2 separate regions of the Homo sapiens genome follow, and region 1 is linked to region 2. Evidence: fine-mapped expression QTL. A gene starts in region 2. The other region holds a variant in brackets. All regions are shown on one strand. Distances are between the middles of the regions.

The links. PIP is the estimated chance that this variant, and not a neighbour inherited with it, causes the effect. A credible set is the group of variants that fine-mapping cannot tell apart.
Region 1: its variant is the best candidate, but not a certain one, in a credible set for the expression of ATF1 in esophagus muscle (GTEx, PIP 0.80).

The regions. Positions count from the first base shown.
Region 1 is chr12:50,817,687-50,822,080 of GRCh38, reverse strand. ATF1 (activating transcription factor 1) reads right to left here. Exons shown (of 7, transcript NM_005171.5): 7 at 919-2,446. The coding sequence ends at 2,302. Among named protein-coding and RNA genes, the nearest start is that of TMPRSS12, 23 kb to the left of the region's middle. The variant A/G (reference allele first, on the strand shown) is at 2,099.
Region 2 is chr12:50,761,625-50,766,018 of GRCh38, reverse strand. ATF1 (activating transcription factor 1) reads right to left here and starts at 1,918. Exons shown (of 7, transcript NM_005171.5): 1 at 1,712-1,918. RefSeq lists enhancers at 1,055-1,154, 3,455-4,323 and silencers at 1,575-1,664, 1,885-1,964.

The sequences.
Region 1 (4,394 bases), 56 kb before region 2:
AGGTGTGAGCCACCCGCCTGGCCTAATACACATTTTTATATCACTACTGTGACCTCATATTTTAATTGGAGAATGCAGGTTTAACCTAGTAGTTGCAATATAATAATTGCTGAATGAATAAATACAGTAAGAATTCCAAAATGCTAACAAATGCCCATTCTTCCTGCTCTGTTCAATATTAAAGGAATATCTTATATGCCCTATATGTGTTTGTGGACAATAATCTATTTCTATCAATATAATATATAAATGAGTAAATTGATAAGTAAAATAGCAAGTTGAACTAAGGAAATAATTTGATTAGTCTTTTGCATTTTGGAAGTCTAATTTCATGTTTGGACTATAATCACTTAAAAATTTGATAAGCCCCACATTGGATTCCAATTAGAAAAACACCCAGGAAAATAATTTGTTATGCATTTATGGAACCATTAATGGTTTGCCCTGACCTGTTTCATACAGCTAGAGTAAGTAACTGGGTCTAGTTAGCAAGGCCCTACACCAGAAGTCTGAAGGCAGCAGAGTTTACAAATATTTGCAGATGTCCAGCTGTTAAGGCACTAAGAGCTAGGCTACCTCTGTTGTAAACAAGCACGGTGTCTACCCAATAATATATTATCATCTGTTGAAAAAGTCTTTTGACATAACCCAGTGACCTCATACCTCCTCATATTCTTAGGCCTAACGGGCCACCAGTTTGAGATTCTGGCTTTACACAAGGTAGTAAGTGATATAAGTAATCCCCCTGGCGATCAAACTTTTTTTTCTTTTCATAAAGTGCTGCCAAGTCAACAGAGTCCCATTTTAAAAGACCCTTCTAATGAGAAATTTCATCAGGAGGGTCAAACACAAATGTATCAGTTAAGTGAAGATTTCTACGTAGCATTAGGATAATTAACAGCATGGCCAGGAGCAAGCTTATCATTCATATACCAAGCATTATATTTTACATTCAGTAGACTATCAAATGTCCTTTAATTTCACAGACAACAATATGATGCATACTGTGTAAGAGCACACAATAGTTTTGCAGTACAATTTTAAACTGTATACAAATTGGAATATAGATGTTAAACGCTGGTGTACTGACAGTATTTTTGAATTTTAGATAAACTGCATACAAAATTTACAATGCAAATATTAGCCAATCTGAAAACGTCCCATAATATAAAAATGATACTTTGAGATGCAAATTTTACTAAACTATATAAACATTTAAAATAATCATTAAAAACTCAACATTAGAATTTATAAAGATCAGCTATAAAAATATATTGGCAGTCACTTTTCTTATAAAGGTACCACTCACTACATTACAAAATAGTCTCTAACATAAAATTGCCTTAATAACTATACTATTATAGAATCTGATAAACCTTACATTATTAAATTGATTATAAAATCTTCTTGGAAAAACTTTGGTATGTATCTTCAGAAGGTTTTTTAAAAATAATATTTTAAGGGCCTGTAAACATTCCATTCTATTAAAGCACAGCAGAATAAGTAATGGATATTCAACTGCATACAGAATATAGACTCAAAAAAACAATTTATTATGTATTTGTAGAAAATCATTACCAGAGTAAGCAAAAAAACCAACTATTTAAAAGTATCAAACTTTTAAACAGTTCTTTTTCCATTCTGATAAAAAATGTTATAAAATCACCATACTCCATTCATGTACCTTAGATGCCTTTTAGGATAAGACCTCAAAAATAATTAACCTAGTCTCAAAAATCCATTCAAGTCCAATAACAAACTTTTAAAAACCCACTTAAAAAGACTTGACACTAGAACAAGTATACATAATCAGAACATATACTTTATATATTTAGTAATGTACTAGGTTTTCTCTTACCTTTGTAATTTAGAATTTATTGGCAGAAATTACACACACACACACACATATATATAACTAAAAAAAGGTAAATTTCAGCAAACAAATGCAAACCTGTAGGGTAAATGGATTTTTAAAAAAAATTCAGTTTATCAAATTTCATCTTCTCTGCCATTTTAGATTGGCAACTATTGGTTATTTAGAAAATTTAGACTGCTGAAAGTTCATTTCTTGCTCCTTGAATATGTTTAATTTCTACAA[A/G]GCTTCCAGTTGTGCCCGTAGCTTCCTTGAGGTCATTTTCCACTTTCTCCTCTGTCACTAGATATCGTGCGTAAGATATTTATCCTTGATTTGGAAAAGCCTAAATAAAAAGCTTCAGTTTTGACCTTTTAATTTATAAAACTCCACTAGGAAATCCATTTAATTTTTATGCATGTCCACAAAAATATTTTCTTTCTTAGGAATCAAACACTTTTATTGGAATAAAGATCCTTCAAAGTTTTTAACTCTTCTATTAGAGTTTTATTTTGATTTTCCAGGACTGCAACTCGGTTTTCCAGGCATTTCACATATTCTTTCTTCTTTCTGCGACATTCTCGAGCAGCTTCTCTAAATATGAGCATTAAAAAAACAATGTTAGAAAAAACTTCACATTCTTTAAATGGTAAATGTTCTTCAGTAATTTTCCGTGGTCACCTTTTTTTCTCTTTAAAGTATCATCTACACACAGAGAATACATAGATCTTAAGTGTAGAATTCAGTCAGTTTTGGCAATTGTGTATACCTGTATAACCCACACCTCTGTCAAGACAACAGAACATTCCCACTGTCCCAGAAAGTTCCCTCATGCCCCTTCCTGGTCAGCCCCCTTCCAAGCAACTATCGTTTTGATTTTTATCACCAGAGATTAGTTTTTTTCCTATTCTAGAACCTCATGTAAGAGTGTCATACACTATGTACTCTGGTGTCCCTTCACTCAGCCCATCTGAGGTTCATCCATGTTGCTGCATGGGGGTTTGTTCCTTCACACTGCTGGACATAGTTCACTGTATGAATATAACCACCATTTGTGTATCCAGTCTCTTGCGATGTTTCTAGGGTTAGCTGCATAGGCATGTTTTTGTGCCAGTCTTTTTGTAGAAAGGTTTCATTTCTCTTGAATAAATACCAAAGAGTGAAATTATGGGTCCTCTGGTTAACTTCTGACACATGACTTCTTTTATTTAAGTTCAAATTACAAACAATGCTTGAGCAAATACTCAGTTCTGTGCATGTCCTCTTAAAACATTTCTGTGAAGTCATATGTAAGTTTATATACATATAGAAATCGGAAGTATTGGCCAGGCATGGTGGCTCATGCCTGTAATCCCAGCACTTTAAGAGGCCAAGGCGGGCAGATCACCTGAGGTCAGGAGTTCGAGACCAGCCTGGCCAACATGGCAAAACCTCATCTCTACTAAAAATACAAAAATTAGCTGTGGTGGCACATGCCTGTAATCCCAGCTACTTGGGAGTCTGACCCAGGAGGATCACTTGAAGCTGGGAGGTGGAGGTTGCAGTGAGCCAAGATCGCGCCACTGCACTCCACCCTGGGCAACAGAGCAAGACTCTGTCTCAGAAAAAGAAAGAAAGAAAGAAACAGTACTATTTTAAGATTTTTATGCTATATATGTAGATACTATTTGCAACTTGCTTTTTAGTACACATCTTTAAAAGGACTGTACAAAATCTTTCCCCTCACAAAAAGACTTTATTTTTACCTTTAAGCTCTGTTTGTTTGTTTGTTTTAAGTGGTTTCCAGTAAACATTCTTTTTCTTTTTTCTTCTTTTGTTTTGAGACAGGGTCTCACTCTGTCAACCAGGCTGAGTGCAGTGGCACAATCACAGCTCATTGCAACCTTGACCTCCTGGACTCAAGATATCCCCACTTCAGCCTCTCAAGTAGCTGGGACTACAGGTGTACACCACCACACCAGCTAATTTTATTTTTGTAGAGATGAGGTCTCAGTATGTTGCCTAGGCTGGTCTCACTCCTGGTCACGGTGTCGGGATTATGGGCATGAGCCACCCACTCAGCCTCCATTCTTTACGTGTATTTCTACACATGTATTTCTTGAAGGATCACAAGCTATATTCACTTAAAGTCAAGAGATAGTGCCAATTTATATTCATTGAAGTACAGAGAAATAAGGGGGGAAAAAAGGAAGGAAAAAAATCCCAGAGTCAAACCAGAAAGAAAAAAGGGAAAAAATGCCAGAATGTCCTCCAGAGTATTTGTACCATTTACATTCCCAGGGGCAGTACATGAGAGTGCCTGTTATGAACATTTTAAAATGGTTGTCAGTCTAGCGGCTGACAAAAAGCGAACCTCACTGCTTTAACATTTCCCTCATTATGCACAAAGTTTGGAATAATTTCATGTTTACAAGGCCATCTTTCACAGACCGGTTTCCTTCTGTTAGGTCTCTTATTTACAGAAATAAATCTTTATATAACCTATACATCTCGTAATTCTTTCTCTTTATATAAAAGTTGCAAATATTTTTCCCAGTTAACA
Region 2 (4,394 bases):
CAGGGCAAGTCCACAGTGCGATGTAAAAGTAACATTATGAAGAAAGTAAAGGAATAAAAAGAACGGCTACTCCATAGACAGAGCAGCCCCAAGGGCTGCTGGTTACCCCTTTTTACTGTTATTTCTCAATGATAGGCTAAACAAGGGGTGGATTAATCACGCCTCCCCTTTTTAGACCATATAGGGTAACTTCCTGACATTGCCATGGGATTTGTAAATGGCGCTGATGGGAGTGTAGCAGTGAGGATGACCAGGGGTCACTCTTGTGGCCATTTCAGTTTTGGCCGGCTTCTTTACTGCAACCTGTTTTATCAGCAAGGTCTTCATGACCTGTATTTTGTGCTGACTTGTCTCATCCTGTGACTTAGAATGCCTTAACTGTCTGGGAATGCAGCCCAGTAGGTTTCAGCCTCATTTTACCCAGCTCCTGTTTAAGATGGAGTTGTTCTAGTTCACACGCCTCTGACACCATCTCTATTTAAAAACAAACAAACAAACAAACAAAACAAAACAAAAACTGGCAAAGATAGCACACCCTATATTTAAAGTCAGAAGGGACTGCCACCTGCTGGTGATCGGGTAGGAATGGACAGATAGCTCACAGACCAAACCTAACCCTAAAAGATAACGGCAAGTATTAAAGAGCTAATACATTCGACTTTAGGGCAACAGTATTGATTCTAATTAAGACACGGAGATAACTGCATATGATAAACTCCAAGAAAAAAGAGCATTTTAGAAGAACGCATTTCTGTTAACAAAAACCTCAGGTTAAAATGCATTCTGAGACATAAATGCCTACGAACTCATCACAGGTGAGGCCAGTTTGACAAAGATGCCTGCCAGATCCACGCCGAGCTTCTGAACCCTAAAGGTTCTCAAAGACTACCAGTTGCCCAATCTCTTCAAAACACTAGCGCCACAACCAGACATTATTTCACATTGCAATCATTTCAAAGCGATTCAGCCGCCAGCTGCACGGCGTCGATCAAAGTGAGAAATGCCAGGCTTCGTTTTTTGACATACAAGATCAAAGAGAAAGTCACCCTCGGCTGGGTCGCCCATCCCAAAGGGTACAGACGCCCTTGTGTCATTCCTAGCCAGGGGTAAAGCCGCCTACTGTCCCCACTCTGTCTCCGCTGCCAGGCGCATCTCTCCAGGACTGTCTGGGGCGTGCGCAATGCCCGTGCGTCGGTTGCCCGCTAGACTGCAAGCTCCAGGAGGGTAAGGGGCGCGCCTCTTCCCTCAGGGTCGCCAGCGCCGACGCGCTTCGAGGACCCTGTCGCGGGGTTAACCAGACCCGGGCTCCGCTCGGCGGACACCGCGCCGAGGCCATATCCGCGCCGCCCTCCGCCCGGCTCCGGGCCCAACCTCGAGACCTCCCACGGAGAGCTAGCGCCTGCGACTGCAAAGGGCGGCTTCTGAGGCGAAAGCCACCCCGCGGCGGGCGGTTTCGGGCTTTACTTTTATTTGGGGGCGAGGGAAAGGAGGAGACGCACGACTGGAAGGGCGCAGCGCAGCTCTGCACCGAGGCGCGGAGGCCGGAAGCGCGGGCGGCCCCTCCCCCTGCCGCTGCGCCCCTCCCCCACCGCCACCACCGCGCGCGACCCCCACCAGGCGCGCGACCCGCGCTGCGTCCCCGCCGGCGCCACGTTCCCGCGTCCTTCCCCGCCCGGGCCACGGGGCACGTCCCTCCCCGCCCCCCACTTACCTGTGGCTGCCGCCTCGCCGCTCTCCGGGGCGGGAACTTCCACTCCCCCCTCCCAGGTAGATCCGAATTCACTACCCACTTCCCCACCCCCTCACGCAGCGGGGGACAAGCCTCCTTCTCGGGGGTCAGGCGGGGCGGGGAGAATCAGTGTCACTTAACAGCCAACTGTCCTAAGCTACCGTTTCCTCGGCAGTCAGGGCCGCTACTGGCGGCATGATCTACACAAGCCTGGGGGCGGGGGCGGGGGCGGGGGAGGGGAGGGGGGCAAAACTGAGCACTAGTGTGCGTTTGGGGTAGGCTATGGCGCTGCCTCCGCGCGGGCCGCCGTCCTGCGTCACCGCGCTGCCCACGTGACGCGCCGCCATCTTGTACGCGGTCCTGACTTGTGGCTAGGGGTTCCTCGGAACGCGTTCCTCAGGCTGCAGCGGGAGAGGGACGGTGCCTGCGGTTCCGTTTCTCCTTAGGAGCTGTACCCCACCCGCCCTACGTCCGCTTCCGGAGGCCATGAGCAGCTGGGTGCTCGCGGGGGGCGTTTTCATCGATTAGTGGCGGCGCTGTCAACTCACCTGCCAATTGACCTTGACCGACGCCGGCCCTGTCCTCTTGGAAGGAGAAATGAAGAGTGAAGGCTTTGACTTCCTCAGCTTTTTTTTTTTTTTTTTTTTTTTAGATGGAGTCTCTTTTTTTTTTCCGAGATTGAGACGGGGGTCTGTGGCCCAGGCTGTAGTGCAGTGGTTCGATCTCGACTCACTGCAGCCTCCAACCCCGGGATTCAAGCGATTCTCCAACCTCAGCCTATGGGGCAGCTGGGACCACAGGCGCGCGCTACCACGCTCGGCTTGAAGAGATGAGGACTCTATGTTGCTCAGGCTGGTCTTGAACTCCTGGGCTCAAGTGATCCTCCGCCTCGGCCTCTCAAAGTTCTGGGATTACAGGCGTGAGCCACCGTGCCCGGCCTTACTCAGATTTTTCTTAATCCCATAAAGTAACAATGAGTTGTGTCCTTTAACCCATGTGGAAGGATTTTCTACAGAAACGGATTTACAATGAGACATAACGATGTGGCCGGGCGCGGTGGCTCATGCCTGTAATCCCAGCACTTTGGGAGGCCCAGGAGGGCGGATCACCTGAGATCGGGAGTTCGAAACCAGCCTGACCAACATGGAGAAACCCCGTCTCTACTAAAAAATACAAAAGTAGCCGGGTGTGGTGGCGAATGCCTGTAATCCAAGCTACTTGGGAGGCTGAGGCAGGAGAATCGCTTGAACCCGGGAGGCGGAGGTTGCGGTGAGCCGAGATCGCACCGTTGCACTCCAGCCTGGGCAACAAGAGCAAAACTGTCTCAAAAAAAAAGAAAAAAGAAACGTAACAGAGTGTTAATAAAATGTTATGCCGTCATTTTAATGCATTACAAAAACTTCAGAATATTTTTGGGTCTACCTCTCTGGAAGGGAGTTATGCCTTATTCTTAATTTTTAAAATTTCCTTGTAAAATGCTGTTTTATGGCTTTAATGATAGTAAACGACAAAAGATAAACTTTTTTAGTATGCTCTTGACAAAAGTTCCGAAAGTTTTCTGAAATTTTACTAGTTTGAGATCCCCAATTTAGGAAACCGATTTAGTGGAGAGAGCTTTGCCTATTTTTGGCCCTTTGGGTCGGAGAATGTGATATAAAGCCGAAGATTTACTCTGCCAGACAGTCTTAAGAGGTCACTAACGTTTAGCTATTGACATTCAGCAAAAATTGTGGATTACCTATTAAATGCTAGACCAGGGGACAACTGTTATTAAGTCAGTGTTTCAGCATTACTGAAAGAAAAGTGGCCTATAAAGGTAAGGGAGAGGAAGAGTTTCTCAGATACCAGCCTTCGATGATTAACAAAGTCCAGCCTCAATCATTCTGGAATCCAGAATATTGATGGCTGGAAGGCTGGTTGTACAAGTTTATTGTTCTTTGGTGTTTGGTTTTTTCTTCCGTGGACCACAGAATGCTTAACAAAAGTTGATCAGTAAAAAGCGGGGGAGGGGCTAGGCGTCGTGGTTCATGACTGTAATTCCAGCACTTTGGGAGGTGGGGGAGGGCAGATCACCTGAGGTCAGGAGTTCGAGACCAGCCTGGCCAACATGGTGAAACCCCGTCTCTACTAAAAATACAAAAATTAGCCAGGTGTGGTGGCACACACCTGTAATCCCAGCCTCTCAGGAGGCTGAAGCATGAGAATCGCTTGAACCTGGGAGGCAGATGTTGCAGTGAGCCAAGATCACGCCACTGCACTCCAGCCTGAGCCACAGAGGGAGACTGTCTCCAAAGAAAAAAAATAAAAACCTGGAAATTTTATTGAAAAATGAAACCTTCAAAATGTGCCTTGACTACTTCTTTAGCTCCTCTTCCTTAGTGCCTTAGGTCTAAATCAAATGTTACGCTCGACCAGTCCTGGTGGCATGCGCCTGTAATCCCATCTACTGGGGAGGCTGAGGCAGGAGGATCATTTGAGCTCGGGAGTTTGAGGATACAGTGAGCTGTGATCATGCCACTGCACTCAAGCCTACATGACAGATGAGACACTGTCTCTAATTTTTTTTTTTTTTTTGAGATGGAGTCTGCCTCTGTCGCCCAGGCTGGAGTGCACTGGTGCAATCTTGGCTCGTTGCAACCTCCACCTCCCGGATTTCAGTGATTCT